3 linked regions of the Homo sapiens genome follow. The protein of the gene in region 2 purifies or fractionates together with the protein of the main gene of each other region. This does not show direct contact. Each region holds a gene or a part of one and is shown on either strand. Other genes may lie near its edges.

Region 1 (7,280 bases), on a different chromosome or scaffold from region 2:
GTGCAATGGCACGAACTCGGCTCACCGCAACCTCCTCCTCCTGGGTTCAAGCGATTCTCCTGCCTCAGCCTCCCGAGTAGCTGGGATTACAAGCACCTGCCACCATGACCGGCTAATTTTGTATTTTCAGTAGAGACGGGGTTTCTCCATGTTGGTCAGGCTGGTCTCTAATTCTCGACCTCAGGTGATCCACCCGCCTCAGCCTCCCAAAGTGCTGGGATTACAGGTGTGAGCCACCAGGCCTGGCCTAAGAATCTACTCTTTTAAGAAGGTTGGATGAGAAAGAAATAAAAGCGAAGGCTAAAGCAAGAGGAGGCTGCTGAGTGGAGGAAGGTATTTCATTTTATTATGTCTGCTGGGCAAAGATCAGTGAAGAGGCCGAAGTTGGTTACAGGAGAGATTGTGAATAATGGATGGAGGTGGGAAAGGACAGGATATAACGCACACCTGCAGGGCCTAGTCCCAGCCAAGGGAGCTGGAGAGTGTCTATTCTTCCCAAGAAGGAGGAAGGAAATCAGAAAGTTTCATTCAGTGGTTCTCACATTAAAATCACTGAGGTATCTTAAAAAAAATGCCAATAGCTGGGTCACACCTCAGAAGTTTCTGGTTTAATTAGTCTGGGATGGTCCTGGGCATTGATGTGTTTTCAAAGCTTCCCAGGTGATTAAAATCTGCAGTCAAAGTTCACAACCACTGGTTTAATTGCAGGTAACATTTTAGATTAATGATAATGGGATTGGATTTGAGGAAACTCACACTTAATAAAGGTTGGATGAATAGGGAGTGGTCAAGGTTTCATAGATGAGGAAGGGAGAAAGAGAAGGAAGCTAGAAGGGAAGGCAGCTAATGCTAACTTATTGAATTTTATGTGCCAGAGATATAGAAATGAATGAGGCATGGTCCTTCTTCTTAGAGATCAGGATCTCACATGACAGACACTTCACCACAAGCCTATGACATAATACAGTTCTTGACCAGTTAAGTTTTTTTGTGTGTGAGCTACTTTTATTCTTTTTTTTTTTTTTTTTTAACTAAAAGTGAAGGGGGAAACCCCTCACACCCAGAACCCAGGTATTTCCCAATATAGACTGGGTCTGGAAATCCTTTTGTGAGCATTGAGAGTAGCCTTTCTGGGAAGGTGGGTGCTGGGGAAAGATCTGTAACTATTCCGGGAGATCAACTTGTACCCAGGCTCATCAGCAGGGCTGGAAGTAGATGGTGATTGTGGCCCTGCATGTGGGTACATTACTGCAGTCACCTGTACCTGGGAGGTGGCTAAAATTGCTAATTGCTTACATGGAAACACTTTGATGGCCATTCTGCTATAGTGTGAAGCTTCTATGAGTAAGGTACCAAGGATTCCCTTTCTCTGAGCAGCATTGTAAAAAGGCCCTACTTTTCATCAGAGCAGAAAACCTAACTTTTGCTACTGTGGTCTGGGCCTGACCTCCAGGGACAGCTTCATCCACACAGGAAGTAGGTAGGTGCTTCTCTATAGTCTGGACCTTCCCTCAGAGAGAGTCTACTGTCACTTCTTGAGTTCCTTGAATCTTCCCCAGGAGGGTCCAACTCCCAGGGCTCCTGGGAAGCCTCTGATCTGACCCCACCAGCCCCACCTCCACCTAGTGAGCTGGTGAGGTGTTGAAAGGGCTTTAATGGAGGGCCCTGGCTTTTAGCTAGGGGCCTCCTTCCCCGAGGAAGAGTACTGAAAGAAGTGTCCTAGAGAAGTGTTCTCTCCTAAGAGAAGTATCCTAGGCACAGAACAGAGAGGGGAAACTCGACTGGGAATTGACTGTGGCACTATGAGTATATGGAGGGTGTTCCTTCTGTTACCTCATTAGACCCTTTTTATATAAGCAGAAATTGAGGCTTGAAGAAATTAAGAAATTCGACTATGTCCTCAAGGACAGGAGCTGTACAAAATCCAATCTGTTCCATTCTATTGTCCCTCAGGCTCTTGGCCTCCCTCTGTTATTGTAGGTTGGCCCCTTTAGGAAAATCTCAGTTGAATGTCATTTCAGTGCTCTCCTTCCTTCTAAAGAATTAAGCTAGGTCCCTTAGACCATAGGGCACATGGGCCTTCTAGCTGGGTCTCTGTTTGCTTACTCAGTGACTTGGGGACGTGTGAAATCCAGATGGGATTCTATCCTGAGGTGAAGGTAGAAGGTAATACAGAGAATTGCTGAATGGGACAGACCACACCAATAAAATTTTTTGTTGGACTCTGTAATCCAGTGTTTTCATTGCAGAGATGTAATTGAAAGCCCCCAACCTCACCGTCAGAGAAAGGAGGGACTAAGCTTATTCTAGCCTGATGCCTGATACCTGTTAATTGGGAAGCCTTGTCTGTTAACATCCTGACTTAGGTTTCAAGCTTTCAGTGGGGCCAGACTATGGAATTATCTGTAATTCTGGCATCAGAAGCCCTTTTTCCAGTTCTTTGGGCCATTTTGGGGTCTGTGAAACAGGCTAGCAGCATGTGAAGATAATTCACACTAAATCTGCCTGAGAGTCAAGACAGTGCCACGGCAGCCCCGACTCTGTGTCAAATTACACACTAGCTGCCTAGCACTGGGGTGTGCTTTGGGGCAGGGCTGGGGACACCCATGTCCTCCCTACTTCCCTTAACCCTTCCCCAGCTCTCCTGCCACTCCCTCATACACCTGGTCGTGGTCACTGCCAGGAGCCCCAGTGCGGCCCAGTGCCTGCACATGATAGGCACAAGGTGAATGAGTGCCTGGACGCATGCAGGGACTTGGGTACCTGAAATGATGATTCTGCATATTTCATGTAGTCTTGATGCTGAGTCACCTGCTTACCCATACTACTGGAGGAGGGGATGAGGAAAGACAGAGTTTGGGCAAAGGAGAAAGGAAGTGTGTTTTACTGTTCTGCATCTTTGAACAATGCAGCATAGTTGGTTCTGTCCTCATCTTTGGACAGGTTAGAATGAACCATCAAAAGGGGTGAGATTAGGTCTCAGGAAATAGTTTTCATCAGGGAGGAGCAAAAATTCCCAAACAAGTGAGGAACAGAGGCTGGGAGTCTCTTTCTCTGGGATTCCTTAATCACAGGGTTGTTCAAGCAGGTGCCAGGATTGGAAACTGAAGGAGGCTGAGATATTGAAAAGGCCTTGGCCTGCTTAGGGAGAAGTATGTGAAGATGCTTTTGAAATGATACTACTCTAAGTGGCGGGTTGCACGGCAATAACATTAATGATAATTGAATACTGCTTTCACTTACTCCAAGGGGAACATGGACTTCCCACAGCCCAGGCTTTTACGGTGTGGGTTCACTCTTGTAGGGTCACATGTAAAAGAACCCTAACTGGTTTCTTGGCATACTGGGAGGCACAAATGCCCCAAACGTGTAGGATATTTTGTGAGATCCTACAATCCCTGTGTGGCACCTTCAACTCTAAAGTATCTGAAACTCCTGGGATGGACAATCTGCCTGCTTGGGGTTGGGGACCCAACTGGCCAAGGCATTTTTCCTCTTGGAGGTTTCCTGGGAGAAGGCCCCCTCTCCTCTGCCATTCAAACTCCCAGGCGCCCGCGTCTTTTCCTCCTCCCCTTCTTCCCTAAGGCAGGGTTCCCTTTGTAATTAATCCCAACACTCAAACCAGAGGGGAGGAAAAATGTGTTAATGAGGGAGCGTCCCAGACTGACTGGGGCGGTCGCTGCTCGCAGCTAGAACTCCAAGTAATTAAATTATTTTTGGAAGGAGGGGATATGGTGGTGATGGTGTCAGGGAAATCCCCGTATGCATGGGAAGAGGCGTGCGCCTCTCGCCACTAATTAAAATCAGGGATGACCCTCCCTTCTCGGACCCCTAGGGGGAAAAAAAAAATCAATCTTCCCACGTCCCAGATTCCATTGGATTTTGTGTAGTCGGGTCCGTGGCCCTAAAGAGAATATGGCCAGCCCCAGGGATCTGGGGGCTCCTTCTCCGACAGGAGGGGTCCAGGAAGACAGCCCCAGGAGGGACTGCGGGCTGGGCCAAGTCCAAGAATCGAGGCATTCCCCTGCCCACCGTTCGGGACCCGAGTGTCAGCCCCACCGCGGATTCCCAGGATCGGGGAGGGCCGCTGGGCATCTGAAGGCGCAGGGCTGGGGGAGCGGCGACTCCGGGAAGAGCGGGGCCGCAGACAATGGACGCGGCGGTAGGAGGGGCGGCGGCTGTGGGAACAGCCGGGAGGCGGCACCCGGGAGCTCGCGCTCCCCCGCCCCCTGCACCCCCCACCCTCATCCCCTCCCCCTCCGCCCCCTCCCCCCTGCGCCGCCGGCTCCCGATCTGATTCCTGATCCTTGATTCCTTGATCCTTGGTCCCGCCATGGGAGCCTGAGCGCCCCCTATTCCCCCCTGGCCCCCAGCCCCCGGGGCCTTGAGGGGGAAGAGGCAGCGGTCTGGGACGGAGCAGGGGGTGACCAGACTCAAGAACCCCCCCCTCAACATCCCCCATCGCGCGCGCTGCCTGTCCAGGAGCGCCGAGTTCGGAGCGACCCGGAGCGCTGCGGATACAAAGGCGACGGGCCGAGCGGGGCGCCCGCGGAGCCCACCCGGCAGTTCGCAGCGGCGGGTGAGTGCCGGGCCGCGGGGGCGCGGGCAAAGTTTGAAAAAAAAAGAAGAAAGAAAGAGAGAGAAAAAAAGAAATGGAAAAGGAGGAAAATCATGCAAGGGGCCAGGGGGTGCCCGACCCCAGAGCGAGCGGGGTGGCTTATGGGGGAAGGGGGGCTGGACTCCGGGCAACCCCCTTCCGGTCCGCTTCCCCACTGCACAGCGGAGTACCCCCCCCAACTTTGGGGAGGGGAAGGGGCTCGTGGGGAGGGGGCGGAGCCCAGGCCTGGAGAGCCGGGGACTTTCCTGGGCCCGGGCGGGGGCCTTAATGATCCCAGGGGAGCCGGTTGAAGCCGGAGACGGGGAGCTTGTGTTGGAGGTGGGGGGAGAGGCGTGGAAGGATCGGAGTCTGGAGGTATTGGAAGCCAAGGGTGTTTTGGGGTGCATACACCCCTCAGGAGCGTGGGGAGGGACGGAGGCAGGTATGCGTTAAGGGTGTAGAGTGGAGTCAGGGGGGCGGGTTGGGCAGAGTAGATAGGGTGTATGTACAGACCGAGGATGGGGCTGGAGGCGGTAGACTGTGTATAGGGGCCGAGGGGACAGGCGCTGGCATCCCTCTCCCCACTCATATTTACCCATCTGGGGGACTGTGGGCTCTGCGTTAGTGAGTTTTGAAGGGTTGGTGGAGGATCCGTGTGCATGATTCTTTGTTTTGGTGTGTGTGCACGCCTTGACGTGCTGCATGTTCCTGCAGGTGGGCCCCTGGTTTGGATGTGTAGGTGTTTTTCTGTGCTTGAGTGTGTGTGCACCCAGGGAGCGGCTGACCATGCATCTGCTGTGTGTTTGGATATGTGTTTATATGTATACTTAGGGGAGGGCGTGTATGTCTATGTGTGTGTACTGGGAGAGGGGTTCACGGGAAAGAGGTGTGTAGGTACTGAGGAAGGTGGGTGTGTAAGAGCAGAATGGAGTGTATGTGGATAGGTGTGTGTGCACCTGTGTACTGGGAAGGGGTGTGAATCTGTGTTCTCTTGTGTGTAACCTGTGTTGATGGGTATCAATGTGTGTGCCTGCCTTAGCTGGTATGTATGTTTCTGAGTGTGTGTCGGGGGTACCTCTAGACTCTGCAGGCAGATTTTCCTGGCAAAAATCCCGAAAAGAAGGCTGTCTGCAGGATTTTGAGACTTCGTGGATGGCCTCGCCTGGGTTTAGGGGTAGTACCTTAAGTATCTGAGACCTATGGGTGGGAGGGAATGAGTTGTCTTATGAAGTGCCTGTTTTTGGGGGATGGGTTTTTCTGGAAGAGGGCGTGTGTTGTGGGGAATAGGGAACAAGGGGTCTGGTTGTAGTCCTAGAGGAATTTGGAAGATTGGCGGGGTCAGGGAGAAGAATAAGAGGAACTTCCTCCCCCATCGTCATAGGCTGGGTTCCAGCGCTTGGAGAAGCTACACTCTTGGATTCCCAGCCTTAGGTAAAAGCTTCAGGCCACAGTTCTCTTGGAAAGCCGTCTCAGAGTTTGCTGCTTCATAGCCTTCTAACTCTGCCCTGACTCTAAGATCCTAAAGTTCCTGAGGAGTCTTGAGATTTTGGTGTGGGATGGAAACAAGAGGAGGAAGCATGTCTGGAGGGTTGAGACCTGGTGGGGAACAGCTTGGGTTCCCTGCCCATGGGGTTGAGAAGGTGGCATAGGGTGTTTCTTCAGCAGCTTTTGCAAGTGAGTCTGTGTGGTTTATCAGACCAAAAAGTTTCCCTTTTCCCTGGTGTCAAGCATGATTGAGATGGAGCTGTGGGTGTGGGGCCAGGGCTGAGTGTCTGTGTGTCGGGAAAGGGCCAGGTACCCATTGCAGGCTATACTGCTATACTCATCATCATGATAGTGTGGTGGGAAGTCAGTGACTATCCAGGAAGTGAATGTCTCTTTCCACCAAGAAGCCACAGCTCCCTTCTCTCCCTGTCCTCTCTCATCCTTTCTCTTTTGGGGTATAGGAAAGGGGTTGCTCACCTCCTTCTTTAGGATACTAGCCTTCCCCCATTGCACACTCTTTTTGCTGCCAGTGGCTGGGTTGAGGCACCCAGTTTTAAGAGCTGAGGTGAGATTGTACATACCCATTATGGTCTCTGGGCAATTGCAATTGGAATGTTAGAGTCTCTAATGGGCATGTGCAATTGGAATGTTCCCTCTTTAGTCCTCAGGGCTCCCTACCCTCCCTAAGGCCTGGAGATAAGAGTAGTAGGGGTTAGAAAATGTTTGAACGAGGAACGGGGAACGGGGCAGAGTAGGAAAAGACCTTTAAAAGACCTTTTTTTTTTTTTAATGGATCATTCCCCCAAACCCAACACCTGTCTGATAGTTAGGGCTCCCAGGGCTAGTAAGGCACTTGCATCTAAGATGGTGTGCCCTGGCCCTCTGGGGTCCCTTGTTTGCTCTGTATACGCTGATCACATGCATGATATATTATGCTGGTGGGGGCTCTCTTCCAAAGAGGAGGAATTGTGGTCAGATAATAGGAAATGCCATTTCTGAAAGTACTTCCAGATTGGGAGTCAGTGGCCACGTTGGCCCCTCCTCACCCATTGTCTTGCTCCTGACTTCTATTTCCTCTAATTCTTCCGGGGCAGGCCTCTCTGGTGTGTTTGCCTCTCCTCCTGATCCTTTTAGATCTGAGGAAATATCCCCCCTTCCCTGGCCCTAGAGCAGGACAGTTTTTTATCTGCTCATCTGG
Region 2 (7,757 bases):
GCCAGGGCAATCAGGCAAGAGAAAGAAATAAAAGGCAAAAAAAAAGAAAAAAAGAGGAAAATAATAATTCAAATTGTCCCTCTTTGAAGATGATATAATCTTATATTTGGAAAAACCTAAGGACTCCACCAAAAAGTTATTAGATCTGGTAAATGAATTCAGTAAGGTTGCATGATATAAAATAAACATACAAAAATCAGTAGTGCTTCTATACACCAACAATGAAATAGCTGACAAAGAAATCAAGAAGATAATTCCATTTGCTACAGCTACAAAAAAAAATAGGAATAAATTTAACCAAGTAGTTGAAAGACTTCCACAAGTAAAACTACAAAACACTGATGAAAAAAATTGAAGATGATGCAAACAAATGGAAAGATGTCCCATGCTCACCGATTGGAAAAATTAATATTATTAAAATGGCTATACTGCCCAAAACAATCTATAGATTCAATACAATGCCTATCAAAATACCAACATCATTTTTCACAGCAATAGAAAAAACAATCCTAAAATATTTATGGAACAAAAAGAGCCCAAATAGCCAAAGCAATCCTGAGCAGAAAGAACAAAGCTGGAGGCATCACATTATCCAACTTCAAAATAAACTACAAAAGTATCATAACCAAAACAGCATTGTATTCATACAAAAACAGACACATAGACCAATGGAACAGAAGAGAGAATCCAGAAATAAATCCACATACTTACAGCCAACTGATTTCTGACAAAGGCACCAAAAACACACAGTGGGGAAAGGACACCCTCTTCAATAAATGGTGCTTGGAAAATTGGACATCCAGATGAAGAAGAATGAAACTGGACTCCTATCTCCCACCATCTGCAAAAGTCAAATCAAGATGAATTAAAGACTTAAAGTAAGACCTGAAAGTATAAAACTACTAGAAGAAAACACAGGAAAAACACTTAAGGACACTGGTCTAGGCGAAGATTTTATGGCTAAGATCTTAAAAGCACAGGCAATAAAAACAAAATAGACAAATGGGACTATATTAAACTAAAAAGTTTCTGCACAGCAAAGGGAATTATCAGCAGAGTGAGGAGACAACCTGCTGAATGGGAGAAAATATTTGCGAAGTATTCATCCAACAAGGGACTAATATCCAGAATATACAAACAACTCAACAGTAAAAAATCAAAAAATCCCACTTAAAAGTGGGCAAAGGACATGAATAGACATTTTTTTTTTTTTTTGAGAAAGAGTCTTGCTCTGTCGCCCAGGCTGGAGTGCAGTGGCATGATCTCAGCTCACTGCAACCTCTGCCTGCCAGGTTCAAGCAATTCTCCTTCCTTAGCCTCCCAAGTAGCTGGGATTACAGGCATGTGCCACCACGCCAGGCTATTTTTTTTTTTTTTTTTTTGTATTTTTAGAAGAGACAGGGTTTCACCATGTTGGCCAGGCTGGTCTTGAACTCATGACCTCAAGTGATCCACCTACCTTGGCCTCCCAAAGTGTTGGGATTACAGGCATGAGCCACCACGCCCAGCCTGTATGTCTTCTTTTTAGAAATTTGTAGGCACTCTTAATACATTTAGACTAACTCTGTCATATATATTGAAAGTGTTTTCTTTTTGTCATTAACCTTTTATTGAGATAAAACTTACATACATACATCAGAATGCACAAATCATAAGTTTACAATCATGTGAGTTTTGATAAATTTACACATTGGTATAACCACTCCATCCCAATCAAGGTATATAATCTTTCTACCACCCCAGAAAGTTCCCTCATGGTCCTGTCTAGTCAATCTCCAGTCCCTCACTTCCAACACACATAGATAACCACTGTTCTGAAATACATCGCCATATCATTTTGCAAGAAATTTCAATTGACATATAATTTTTTTTCTGTTAGCACTTTAAAGATGTCACTCCATTCACATGACTTACCTTCTTTCCAATGAGAAGTCTGCTATTCTAATCTTCATTCTTCTGGATGTAATGTGTCATTTTCCTCTGTCTGCTTTTAAGAGTTTCTCCTTGCTTTCTGTTATCAGCAGTGTGAATATGACCTGACTAAGTGTTTTGTTTATTTGTTTGGAATCCATTGCTTCCTAAATATTTTGTTTGGTGCCTACCATTAACTTGGAGAATTATTGGCCATTATTTCTTCAGATTTTCTGCCTCATTCTCCTTTTTTCTTCTGGAATTCTAATAATGCTTAAGTCAGATCACGTGGCTGTAAGCTTAGTGGCTTAAAACAACACACACTTATCTCAGAGTTTTTGTGGGGTAGGAGTTCAGGCACAGCTTAGCTGGCTTATTCTTGGGTCTTACGAGGCTATAATTAAGTTGTCAGCTGGGTTGCATTCTCATCTGGAGGCTTGACTGGGGAAGGATCAAAGCCCCCTCAGATTCCTGGCAGAATTTGTTTCCTTGAAGTTGTAGGAATTATGGCACCTCGCCTCTTCAAAGCCAGCAGCTGAGAGACCCTTGAGAATAAGTCTGAGAGCAAGATGGAGTCTTTTATAACATCAGGTAATCATGGGAGGGACATCCCATCACCACTGCCATATTCTGTTGTTTAAAAGCAAGCCACAGGCTCTGTCCACCCTCAAGACAAGAGGATTATTCAAGGATGTGAACACCAGGAGGCAGGGATCATATGTCTACCTTACAACCTGTCCACCCCATAGGGGAATAATATTAAGGCAAGAGCTGAATCTAGTGTTTAGCGGAGGTCCTGGTGGGAGATACAGATTTTAGGATCATCAGCATATGGATGGCATTTAAAGGAATGGAACTGGATGAGCTCACTGAGGATGTAGATAGAAAAGATGTGCAAGGACTGAGCCCTGAGGTAAGGCACTCCGATGTTAAGGAGTCAAAGTGTTACCAGTGTGCCCTGGCATCTTGTAATCTCCCAGGATAGAAATAAAGAGAGATCAGCAGACATAGCAGCGAGGAGAAAGAGAAATCTTTATTTAGCTTGTGCACAAGGAAGTCAGCACCATGAAAGGAAAACGGTGGGGGGCCCCGCCGCCAGGGGGTGGCACGTGGGTTAGTTTCACAGGGAAGGGATTGGTCCAGGCATGGATAGGAGGGGTTTGTCTAGTGCTTCTCAGTAGCTTTGCATGCTTCTTCATGCATTGCATGCAACATTCACATTTTAAATCTCTACCCCTAGGTGTGATTTTTAGCGTGAAAATGAGGAAGGGGTAACAATAGTTGAAGTATAAGTCTAACTGCACATGTGGGGCCCGGGGAAGTCCCTAGGCCCCCAAAGCAGGAACTTGTGGTTAATAGCTTCTTGGGTCTTGTGCTGTGGATTGGCTGGATGTTAAGCTACAACTTGAGGAAGGGGCTTTCGTTCTTTTTCTCTACACCCCATCAAAACAGGCAAGCGGCCAGGCTGCCGGTTTTAAAAGGAGAGACTGGTAACCGAGACCCAAAGATGTGGTCTTTGGGATAAGAGGAAAGTGAGAGCACATGGTGTCCTGGATGGGGAGTGAAGAAAGCATGTGTAGCAAGAATGACTATCGATTTTGCTGTAGTTCCCGGAGGACGAGGACTGAGAACTGACCACTAACAATATAGAGATCACTGACAAAGAGTTTTTAGTGGAGTGGTTGTGTTACCGGAAAAGGGTCCTGATCCAGACCCCAAAAGAGGATTCGTGGATCTTGTGGAAGAAAGAATTCCAGGCCAGTCCACAGAGTAAAGTGAAAGCAAGTTTATTAAGGCAGTGAAGGAATAAAAGAATGGCTACTCCATAGAGCAGGGTGTTCCCAAAAGCACGAGGAGGAAGGCGTCCACCTGGGTACGCTTGTTTATATGTAAGATAAAAGCCAAAAAACATCACGGGGGAGACGTGCTGTACTACCTGGGCTCGTCAAAGGATTGCCAATCTTTGCATAACGCCTGTCCTCCGCAAGCATCTGTATCATTATCTTTAAAGCGAAACTTCAACTAAGAATGCTTCTTGTTCTTAAGATACCCGGACATCGGGACCTAAGTTCCGGGTCTGCTGCGTAAAAGTTTATTAACCTGTTCCCGTGACCGTAAACGCCCGACTCCTGGGGATGCAGCCAGCGGGGTTCAGCCTCAGTTTACCCAGCGCTGTTCGAGCTGGAGTCGCTCTGGTTGGAGCGCCTGACCGCGAGGGCCGAGGTCAGGCCGGACTGGGGTTCTCCGGAGCGAGCAGGAGAGGAGCGGGGCTCCTGCGGAGCGGCGCGGCGGGGAGGCCGAGGGCAGGGCGGGCTCGAGCTCGGGCTCTTCTGGCAGCGCCTCCATCCCCGTTCCGTTCACCCGGCAGCCGCCCCGTGGAGGAACCGCGCCCCATCTTTAGCCCTGTGAAACAGAAAGGCCCTTCCTCCGGCAGGCAGCTGAGGGAAAGATCGCCCTGCAGGGGATGTCGGGCCTGTCACTGCTTTGTTGCGGGCCACAGTTCCCTCCCTTCTCCGAGCGGGTCGCACGTCCGAAGGTCACCCCCGCCAGGTGGCTAGGCCCTGTCGCCACTCGACAGAGGACCGAGGAGGAACCAACCCACTGCCCAGACTGCAGCGCCGCCACGCTAGGGCCCGCGCCGACAACCGTCATGACTGGGCATGCGCAAACGGCCCCGCCGGGAGCCATTTCGCCGGGCTGCAGGGCTCGAGGAGAGAGCAGGTGCGCAGGCGCCGGGCGAGAGGCTGCGCCTGCCCTACCCTGGAGCGCGCGTGCGCGCGAGAGCCGGAAGGGGCGGTGCCTGGCGCGGCGCCTGCGCAGTGGGGCGGTGCCGGGGGCGGGGCGCGGCGGCTGTCAGCTGACTGTGGCGGCGGCGGCCTCGAGGTGACAACTGTCTCCGTCGCAGGCTCCGGCGGGGGCGCAGGAGGTCGCCCGGCGCGTCACTGTCGGGTCGGCGAGCCACGGGGGCCGCCGCAGCACCATGGCGACCACCGTCAGCACTCAGCGCGGGCCGGTGAGGCAGCCGGGCGAGGGTCGGGCGGGGGCGGTGACCTGCGGTTGCGGGCGGGGCCTTGGGTCAGGGCTACTGCTCAGCTGCGGCTGGCGGGCCGACTCCGCGGCTCTCCCGGGGCACGCGGGGCGCCTGGCCGGCCGGAGGGGAGCGGCGGCGTCCACACCTCGGGGCGGGGCGGGCCGGACGGACGCGCCCACGCTGCAGGAGGCTTGAGCTCACCGCCGTGCCGGGGCAGAGCTTTGGGGAGGCAGCCCCGGGGGAGGGGGCCTGCGCCCGTTGTGAGCCCCAGATGGAGGCGGGCCCCGTGCCCCATGGTGCCCCAGAGGGAGGCAGGCCCCGCTCCCCAATGGTCTCCAGATGGAGGAGGGCCCGGTGCCCAGATGGAGGCGGCCCCGAGCTCTGACTCCCGAATGGAGGAGGGCCCCGCACCCTAATGGTCCCCCAGGTGGAGGCGGGCCCTGAACCCTAATGGTCCCCTAGATGGATGCGGGCCCTGCTCCCTGATGGCCCCCCAGGTGGAGGCGGGTCCCGCACCCTGATGGCACCCTAGATGGAGGCGGGCCCCGCACCCTGATGGCCCCCCCAGGTGGAGGCGGGTCCCGCACCCTGATGGCCCCCCAGGTGGAGGCGGGCCTGCACTCTAGTTGGTCCCATAGATGATGGCTGTTTCCTCTTTCTCATTTACACAGAGTGAGGGCAGTGGTGACCACTTCTTGGGCCCAATTGTGTCCCCGGTTAGTGGCCACCGTGCAAAACCTCAGTTTCTTCATTTGCAAATGAGAGGATAGGCGCCAGGAACTTCAGAGAACCTTTCCTGCTCTGAATTCTCTCCTGAGAGTTGCCTGGCAGTTTCTTCTATAGCATTAATATTGCAGGAGAGCTGGTGTAGACTGACTCAGAGATGATGGGCTCCTGGCGTGAGTGGCCTCCTGGCTCACTGTTAGGGCCTTCTTGCATTGCTGTAAAGGAATACCGAGACTGGGTAATTTGTAAGAAAAGAGATTTAATTGGCTCCCGGTTCTGCAGGCTGTACAGGTAGCATGGTGCCGGCATCTGCTCCTGGGGAGGCCTCTGGAAGCTCCCAGTCATGGCGGAAGGCCAAGTGGGAGCTTACACGTCACATGGCGAAAGCAGCAAGAGAGTTGGGGGTGGGGAGGTGCCACACACTGTAATGACCAGATCTTGTGAGAACTCACTATCACCGGGACAGCACCAAGCCACGAGGGATCTGTCCCTGTGACCCACACACCCACCCTGCCAGGCCCCACCTCCAACATTGGGGATCATAATTCAGCGTGAGATTTGGCGGGGACACAGATTCAAACCGTGTCACTCACTGAGGCTGGGCTGGGGCAGGCTGTCGTGAGCGGTACAGTTTTTATCAACAGTGGCTCTGAACATGCCGTGGGTGGAAAAAGTCCTTTTTCACGATGCTCCAAGGTCCCTGCCCTCGCGCAGCCCAGTACTGGACGTGGTGGAGGGGTCACCAGGGCTCCCCACCCTTAACACTGTATCCACAAGTCCTGGTGTTTCTCCCGAGGAGATAATTCTTCAGGTAGAACATTTTTTCTGAGTTTAGAATGAAGCCCCAGGTTTTGGGCATAGCTGCTTTTTCTGAGGACTTTGAAGGAAACCTCCTGACACTTATGAGACTCAGGTGTGGAGCCTACGGGTCGGCAGAGGTCCTGGACGGCCTCTGATGGCAGCGTCTCTACCTCTTCATCTTTACTCCACCACAGTGAGTCCCCGCAAGTTGCCGTGGCAGCCAAGTGCTCCTTTCTGCCTAACAGGAGACTCAGAGCAACAAGGGAACCAGCACCCTGCTGTTGTGTCCTCCTGGAGAGCAGGGGGGCATGGTGGCCAGGCAGGATGGCCCCTTCCTTGCTGTGTGGTCTGGGAGACATCCTCTGCCTCCTGGGAACTTGTTCCTCATCTGGAACCCCACTGGGGTGTAGGACTGATTTTGAATGCATCAGGTGCTGAGCAGGCAGGGAGCAGTGGGAGGCAGGCCCTTCCTGTTCTGAGGGGCACCGGCGTGCAGCGCTGTTACACCCGCGATGAGGAAGTGGGAGCGGCAGGAGATGTTCTCACACGCAGGGCCTGTGCTGGCAAGTGCTGAGGTGTCGTTAGAATCTCCTCTTGCCCAGTGCCTCCTGGGCTGTTTCCATCATGTAGACGAGCAGGTATTTCAGGGGCACCCCCGTTGACCGGTAAACGCATAGTAACATGAGGTCTGGCTCGGAGCTGCCAGGGTCTCTTAAGAAGGTGTTGTCAGCGACGGGGGTCTCAGGTGTTGCTTGGAGTACATGTGACTTAATCAACCAGCGCTACCAACTGTGGCGTTCAGGATGGCCATGATGCAGGGGACAACCAGGTGGTTCCTGCCACTGGGGTCTTCCAGGGCAGCACGGTAGACATGGCAGCACATAAGGACAGCTGAGCTGTGTGGTGACGGCCCGGTGGGTCTGTGATCTTAAGCGTCAGGTGCTGGGAGAGTTTGTAAATGGGCCTCACCAGGGCTGGGTGTTGGGGTGAGGACGTGACATCTCTCGGAGGAGGAATGGGAGTAGGGGTTGGGCTGGGAGGGCAGGGCACGGAAAGAGAGGTGTGGGGTCTGGAGGTGGAGAGGAGGGAGCCCCAGGGGCCGAGGATGGAGGGAGGCAGGAGCTGGAGGCCGCCGGAGGGTCCTGGGCACAGGAGGACTGGACTTGCCCTGGAGTTTACCGGCTCAGCGCAGCACTCTGTAAAGTGTTGCCTGGCACACGCAAGGCAGGGCCCGCCTTGGCACCAGCCTGCTTCGCTGAGCATGACCCACCCCAGCCCCTCTGAATTA
Region 3 (6,918 bases), on a different chromosome or scaffold from region 2:
AGGGCCTGCAGCAAGGGGGGCCCCGCGTCCTATCAATGTGGGGATCAGGCATGGCCTGGGACCTCAACACCCCGGCATCGCACAGGTGTGGGAACGGGCCAAGGATGGGCCCTACTGATGAGCAGAGGCCCCCAGGCAGCTGGAGCGCTCAGGGCAGTGCCAGCGCTTTCTGTGGGCAAGGCACCGGGCTGGCAGCCTCGAGTCCAGCCTTATCTAAGCCGGGCAGGTGTAGGAGCTAGGACCGGGCTGACGCCACTGTCTTCTCTCCCCAAGTTCCAACGTCCTTCTGGATGAGAGGCTGACACCCAAGCTGGGAGACTTTGGCCTGGCCCGGTTCAGCCGCTTTGCCGGGTCCAGCCCCAGCCAGAGCAGCATGGTGGCCCGGACACAGACAGTGCGGGGCACCCTGGCCTACCTGCCCGAGGAGTACATCAAGACGGGAAGGCTGGCTGTGGACACGGACACCTTCAGCTTTGGGGTGGTGAGCCACTGACCCCTCTGCTGGCTCAGAGGAGGAGAAGCCACAGGCAGGCAGAGGTGGGGGCTGCAGAGTGCACTGCGGGCCAGGGGCCATCTGCCAAGACCCCAGGAGGCTGCAGCTCCAGGGTCCCCCTCCCTCCGAGGCCCTCCTCCTCACCCTGCACCTAACTGTGTGTTTGTAATTTGTCTTCAAGTGGGCTCTCCGAGTTGCCCGAGCTTCAGTCCCATAACATCTGGCTCTGCCTTTGTCCACACCCTTGTCAGGCCCAATCCATGTCCACACCAGAGGCCTCTTCCCTGCCAAGGCCACTGCCATGCTCTCCCTCTTCCCTCTCTCCAGGTAGTGCTAGAGACCTTGGCTGGTCAGAGGGCTGTGAAGACGCACGGTGCCAGGACCAAGTATCTGGTGAGCCCCTTGAGGCAGGGCCAGGAGGGACACACAGCTGCTGGCAGCCAGCAGGCACAGCCCCAGTGGCGGGGATAACTGGGGCGCAGTGCCCATGGATGCCTCTGCTGCCACAGTGGCCTCATTTTTGAAAGTAGGCAGGGCTCCAAACAACTTCGTTTACCTTGCCGAGGACAAACCTGTCTGTCCTGCAGACACTATGGGCCTTGTACAGACCCCACCTGGGCTGGGGGCAGGGGGAAGGGCGGTCCCAGGGCACTGAGACCCAAGCTGCAGTGGAACTCAGAGGACTCTGGCCGGAGAAAGGCGGTGGTAGAGAAGAAGCAGGCCCCGAGGAACCTCCTGGGCCCCAGCAGGCTGCAGCTGAGCTCTCCGCACCGTGCAGGGCAGCCTGAGCTGCCTCACGGTCTTACTCCACTCAGTCTGCCTCACCGTGGACTGTGGTGGGGCCAGGAGACTAGAGACCTGGGTTTTAGCCCCAGCCTGACAGTGGCCTTCCAGCAAATTCCTGCTCCCCTGTGGGCCTGTTTTCCCATATGCAAAACAGACTTCACAGAATGTGCTCAGCCAGTAATTGCTTCACTGCTTCTCCTCTTGTTTGGGGCGGTTCCTGTGTGCTGTGGGGTCTCCGTCAGGATTCAGCCCCGCTGAGAACCCAGGAGCCGGGCTTGAGCCCTCCTTCCTTTCCCTTCCCCGTCCGTCCATCCATGCATCCTGCTGAAGAAGCGCACCAGGCTCCTTGGGGGTCCTTGGACTTCCCCACTTGCTCCCCACCCTGCAGCCAAAGTGCTCTTTTCAAAGGCCCCTTTGCCTTTTCTCTGCTCTTGGGGTGAAGGCCCAGTCCCTTATGTGGTTGACCCCCCAACGCCCCAGGTCCCTGGGACTCGGGGCGCTCCCTGCTGCCTGCTTCACAGCCTTAGTATGTGCCGTTCGCTCTGCGAGAAAAGCCACCGCCCACCCAGGTGGTTCCTCCTGGTCTGTCTGATTTCAGAACTGGAGATGGCCTCCGGTCCTGTTTCCACCCTGGGGGCGCCTCTCTGCGGGGCGCCTCTCTCTCTGGGGTACCTCTTTGTCTGTGGGGCACCTCTCTGTGGGGCGCTTTCCTTCTCGGCTCTGCCCTCTCAGGCTACTTCCTGCCTTCAGACCCCAGCTCCATGGGGCTCTCCCCCACCAGGAAGTCAGCTCTGTCAAACCGGGTCCCAGGGTTCTGTTTGTTCCTGTATCCCTAGGGCCCAGAGCACCACTGGCCCACAGTAGGTGTTTAATAAATCTCTAGAAGCTACTCGGGAATCTGAGGCAGGAGGATCGCTTGAGCCTGGGAGTTGGAGACCAGCCTGGGCAACATAGCAAGATAGGCATGGTGGTACACACCTGTAATCCCAGCTGCTCGGGAGGCCGAGGTGGGAGGATCACGAGCCTGGGAGGTTGAGGCTGCACTGAGCCATGATTGCACCACTGCACTCCAGCCTGGGTGACAGAATGAGTCCCTGTCTCAGAAAAAAAGTAAGTTGTAGAAAGACCAAGAGCTGTGGCACAGTGTCTCACACCTGTAACACCAGCACTTTGGGAGGCTGAGGCGGGAGGATCACTTGAGCCTACTTGGAGACCAGCCAGGCCAACAAAGCGAGACCCCATCTCTTTTTTTTTTTTTTTTTTTTTTATCAAAACCCATACGATTGAGTGACAAGGACCTGAGGACTGCAGCTGCAGGTGTGGCCACCTGGTAGCCATACTGACAGTATTTATCCCACAGAAAGACCTGGTGGAAGAGGAGGCTGAGGAGGCTGGAGTGGCTTTGAGAAGCACCCAGAGCACACTGCAAGCAGGTCTGGCTGCAGATGCCTGGGCTGCTCCCATCGCCATGCAGATCTACAAGAAGCACCTGGACCCCAGGCCCGGGCCCTGCCCACCTGAGCTGGGCCTGGGCCTGGGCCAGCTGGCCTGCTGCTGCCTGCACCGCCGGGCCAAAAGGAGGCCTCCTATGACCCAGGTAGCCAGCTGCGCACTGGGACGGGGTGGCCAGATAGAAAGCCCGCATTCCAGGCCTTGCTCTGTAGTGACCCCATCTCAGCACCTGCTAGGTCTCTCTGGAGTCTCCACACATTTCTTGCTTGCCCTTTGGTTCTGTTTGGGGCAGCGCCCCTCTGAACTGAGGGGCCCCGGGCAGTCCTGCTTTGCGGAGCCCAGCTCCGACCCCCTTCACATAGAGAGAAGGAAAGAGCTGCTGCCGCGCCCCCTGCTGGGCGCACTGCACTACTGCATCTGCCTTTTTCTGTCCCCTCCCTAGTACCCCACCTCTTCTCCTCTGGTGACAGTTGAAAATGGAGAGGCCCCGTTTGAGGGCAGCGGGGCAGTGAGATTCATTTTGTAGAAAAGAACGAGGCCATTCTCAGTCCTTGCTTTTGGCAGCCGCGCTTCTCAGCACTCCCTGTGATGGGAACAGAGGGGCGAGGGGCAGAGCGTTCCCAGCTGCAGGGTATGTCATTTTAGAGCCCTGGGGCAGGTCACGGACGGCCTGGAGCAGCCCTGTGGTTTGCCCACGGGGTGACCGGCCAGGGCTGCCATCTCACCCTGAGAGTCCCTCTTTTCCACTTGCAGGTGTACGAGAGGCTAGAGAAGCTGCAGGCAGTGGTGGCGGGGGTGCCCGGGCATTCGGAGGCCGCCAGCTGCATCCCCCCTTCCCCGCAGGAGAACTCCTACGTGTCCAGCACTGGCAGAGCCCACAGTGGGGCTGCTCCATGGCAGCCCCTGGCAGCGCCATCAGGAGCCAGTGCCCAGGCAGCAGAGCAGCTGCAGAGAGGCCCCAACCAGCCCGTGGAGAGTGACGAGAGCCTAGGCGGCCTCTCTGCTGCCCTGCGCTCCTGGCACTTGACTCCAAGCTGCCCTCTGGACCCAGCACCCCTCAGGGAGGCCGGCTGTCCTCAGGGGGACACGGCAGGAGAATCGAGCTGGGGGAGTGGCCCAGGATCCCGGCCCACAGCCGTGGAAGGTAGCTGGGGAGACGGGTTCCCAGGAGAGGGACCAAGGCCTCTTTGGGCCAAAGCCCCTGTAAGTCCCCACCCCAGCCTTCTAGAAGAGAACCAGGGCCAAATGTTCAGCTCACTGTGACCTTAGCAACCCTGGTTTCCCCTCCCCAGGCCACATCCTTCCCAGGTGGAGCTTGCTCTCCAGCCCTCCCCCCACCCCATTCCTGAAGGCTGGGAACAAGGAGGGCTCTGTCTGGTAGCCTGAGAGCTGGGCCCTGCCCTTGGACTTCTCTGAGGAATTCAGGCCTGAGGCCAGGGAGGCAGGGTGCTAGGCTGCGGGCTGGGGAGCCACAGCATGAGGCTAAGGGAGTGCCATCTCCACCCCAGGACTGGCCCTTGGCAGCTCTGCATCATCGTCGTCAGAGCCACCGCAGATTATCATCAACCCTGCCCGACAGAAGATGGTCCAGAAGCTGGCCCTGTACGAGGATGGGGCCCTGGACAGCCTGCAGCTGCTGTCGTCCAGCTCCCTCCCAGGTGCTGCCGCCCAGGCTGGCCTCTGGGGTGCTCAGGCGCATCCGTGTCAGCCCCAAAGAGCAGAGTGTCTGTCCCGACTGCGCTGAGGGCGTGGGGCAGCCGGGCAGGCCACTGGCTCTGGCGACCTCTAGAAGCCCAGCCGGCCCCACATGCCTCCCTTAGCAAGACCCTGGCCCACTCCTTCCCTCGCCTCCTGACAGTAGCACCTCCTTTAGCCCGAGGGTGCCTGCCCCACTCTGTGCTTTCAGGAAATAGGAAGCCCCAGCAGGAATTTTCCATCCCAGGTACTATTTGAAGAACCACTGCTTAGGAACCCTCAGCTGGGCGAGGTGGCTCATGCCTATAATACCAGCACTTTTGGAGGCCAAGATGGGAGGATCACTTGAGCCCAGGAGGTGGAGGCTACAGTGAGCTGTGATCAAGCCACTGCACTCCAGCCTGGGAGACAGTTAGACCCTGTCTCAAAAACAAATGAACAAACAAACAAAAACCCTCAATTCCCACGAACGCCCCAGGAGATAAGGGAGCATGGCCCAGGCCTTGAGCCAGGGCTTCTGGCAGTAGGGGAGCCTCCCCCATTTGCTAAGCGGACTTTCCTCTTCCTTCTGTAGGCTTGGGCCTGGAACAGGACAGGCAGGGGCCCGAAGAAAGTGATGAATTTCAGAGCTGATGTGTTCACCTGGGCAGATCCCCCAAATCCGGAAGTCAAAGTTCTCATGGTCAGAAGTTCTCATGGTGCACGAGTCCTCAGCACTCTGCCGGCAGTGGGGGTGGGGGCCCATGCCCGCGGGGGAGAGAAGGAGGTGGCCCTGCTGTTCTAGGCTCTGTGGGCATAGGCAGGCAGAGTGGAACCCTGCCTCCATGCCAGCATCTGGGGGCAAGGAAGGCTGGCATCATCCAGTGAGGAGGCTGGCGCATGTTGGGAGGCTGCTGGCTGCACAGACCCGTGAGGGGAGGAGAGGGGCTGCTGTGCAGGGGTGTGGAGTAGGGAGCTGGCTCCCCTGAGAGCCATGCAGGGCGTCTGCAGCCCAGGCCTCTGGCAGCAGCTCTTTGCCCATCTCTTTGGACAGTGGCCACCCTGCACAATGGGGCCGACGAGGCCTAGGGCCCTCCTACCTGCTTACAATTTGGAAAAGTGTGGCCGGGTGCGGTGGCTCACGCCTGTAATCCCAGCACTTTGGGAGGCCAAGGCAGGAGGATCGCTGGAGCCCAGTAGGTCAAGACCAGCCAGGGCAACATGATGAGACCCTGTCTCTGCCAAAAAATTTTTTAAACTATTAGCCTGGCGTGGTAGCGCACGCCTGTGGTCCCAGCTGCTGGGGAGGCTGAAGTAGGAGGATCATTTATGCTTGGGAGGTCGAGGCTGCAGTGAGTCATGATTGTATGACTGCACTCCAGCCTGGGTGACAGAGCAAGACCCTGTTTCAAAAAGAAAAACCCTGGGAAAAGTGAAGTATGGCTGTAAGTCTCATGGTTCAGTCCTAGCAAGAAGCGAGAATTCTGAGATCCTCCAGAAAGTCGAGCAGCACCCACCTCCAACCTCGGGCCAGTGTCTTCAGGCTTTACTGGGGACCTGCGAGCTGGCCTAATGTGGTGGCCTGCAAGCCAGGCCATCCCTGGGCGCCACAGACGAGCTCCGAGCCAGGTCAGGCTTCGGAGGCCACAAGCTCAGCCTCAGGCCCAGGCACTGATTGTGGCAGAGGGGCCACTACCCAAGGTCTAGCTAGGCCCAAGACCTAGTTACCCAGACAGTGAGAAGCCCCTGGAAGGCAGAAAAGTTGGGAGCATGGCAGACAGGGAAGGGAAACATTTTCAGGGAAAAGACATGTATCACATGTCTTCAGAAGCAAGTCAGGTTTCATGTAACCGAGTGTCCTCTTGCGTGTCCAAAAGTAGCCCAGGGCTGTAGCACAGGCTTCACAGTGATTTTGTGTTCAGCCGTGAGTCACACTACATGCCCCCGTGAAGCTGGGCATTGGTGACGTCCAGGTTGTCCTTGAGTAATAAAAACGTATGTTGCAATCTCGGGCTCTACTTGTGGACTTTGTTGCACCGAAAGCCTTGAGCTTTCCTGATGCCTTACACTTCAGGGTTCTTGAGCGTCCAGGGTCTTGTTACTACTCTGGGCTGGCCACACCCAGCACTTCCCGTGTCAGGTTTTTCCTGATGTAGTCCATGTTTTTTATGCTATTCTAAATGGTATCTTTGATTTTCTAGTTCATCATGATATTATACAGAAATGCAATTGATGCTGGGCACGGTGGCTCACGCCTGTGATTCCAGCGCTTTGGGAAGCTAAGGCGGGCAGATCACTTGAGGCCAGGAGTTTGAGACCAGCCTGGGCAACATGGCGAAACCCCGTCTCTACAAAAAGTACAAAAATTAGCCAGGCATGGTGGTGCATGCCTGTAGTTTGAGCTACTCAGGAGGCTGACCCAGGAGGATAGTTTGAGCCCAGGACGTTGAGGCTGCAGTGAGCCATGATTCCACCACTGCACTCCAGCCCGGGCAACAGAGGGAGACCTTGCC

Evidence for each region.
Region 1: the proteins of TOLLIP (region 2) and VANGL2 purify together in Homo sapiens (affinity purification with western blotting, with the first as the bait; 2 studies listed by BioGRID). This does not show direct contact.
Region 3: the proteins of TOLLIP (region 2) and IRAK1 purify together in Homo sapiens (affinity purification with western blotting; 11 studies listed by BioGRID and IntAct, with this or other methods). This does not show direct contact.

Annotation. Positions count from the first base shown.
Region 1 is NC_000001.11:160,396,291-160,403,570, forward strand, and holds the start of VANGL2 (vang-like protein 2), read left to right. Parts: upstream 1-4,273; 5' UTR 4,274-4,579; intron 4,580-4,884; exon of another isoform or gene 4,885-5,039; intron 5,040-7,280. UniProt on the Homo sapiens protein: Involved in the control of early morphogenesis and patterning of both axial midline structures and the development of neural plate. Plays a role in the regulation of planar cell polarity, particularly in the orientation of stereociliary bundles in the cochlea.
Region 2 is NC_000011.10:1,306,633-1,314,389, reverse strand, and holds the start of TOLLIP (toll-interacting protein), read left to right. Parts: upstream 1-4,757; 5' UTR 4,758-4,891; coding exon 4,892-4,924; intron 4,925-7,757. UniProt on the Homo sapiens protein: Component of the signaling pathway of IL-1 and Toll-like receptors. Inhibits cell activation by microbial products. Recruits IRAK1 to the IL-1 receptor complex. Inhibits IRAK1 phosphorylation and kinase activity.
Region 3 is NC_000023.11:154,010,000-154,016,917, reverse strand, and holds the end of IRAK1 (interleukin-1 receptor-associated kinase 1), read left to right. Parts: intron 1-273; coding exon 274-481; intron 482-820; coding exon 821-886; intron 887-2,639; coding exon 2,640-2,876; intron 2,877-3,484; coding exon 3,485-3,875; intron 3,876-4,239; coding exon 4,240-4,389; intron 4,390-5,000; coding exon 5,001-5,059; 3' UTR 5,060-6,411; downstream 6,412-6,918.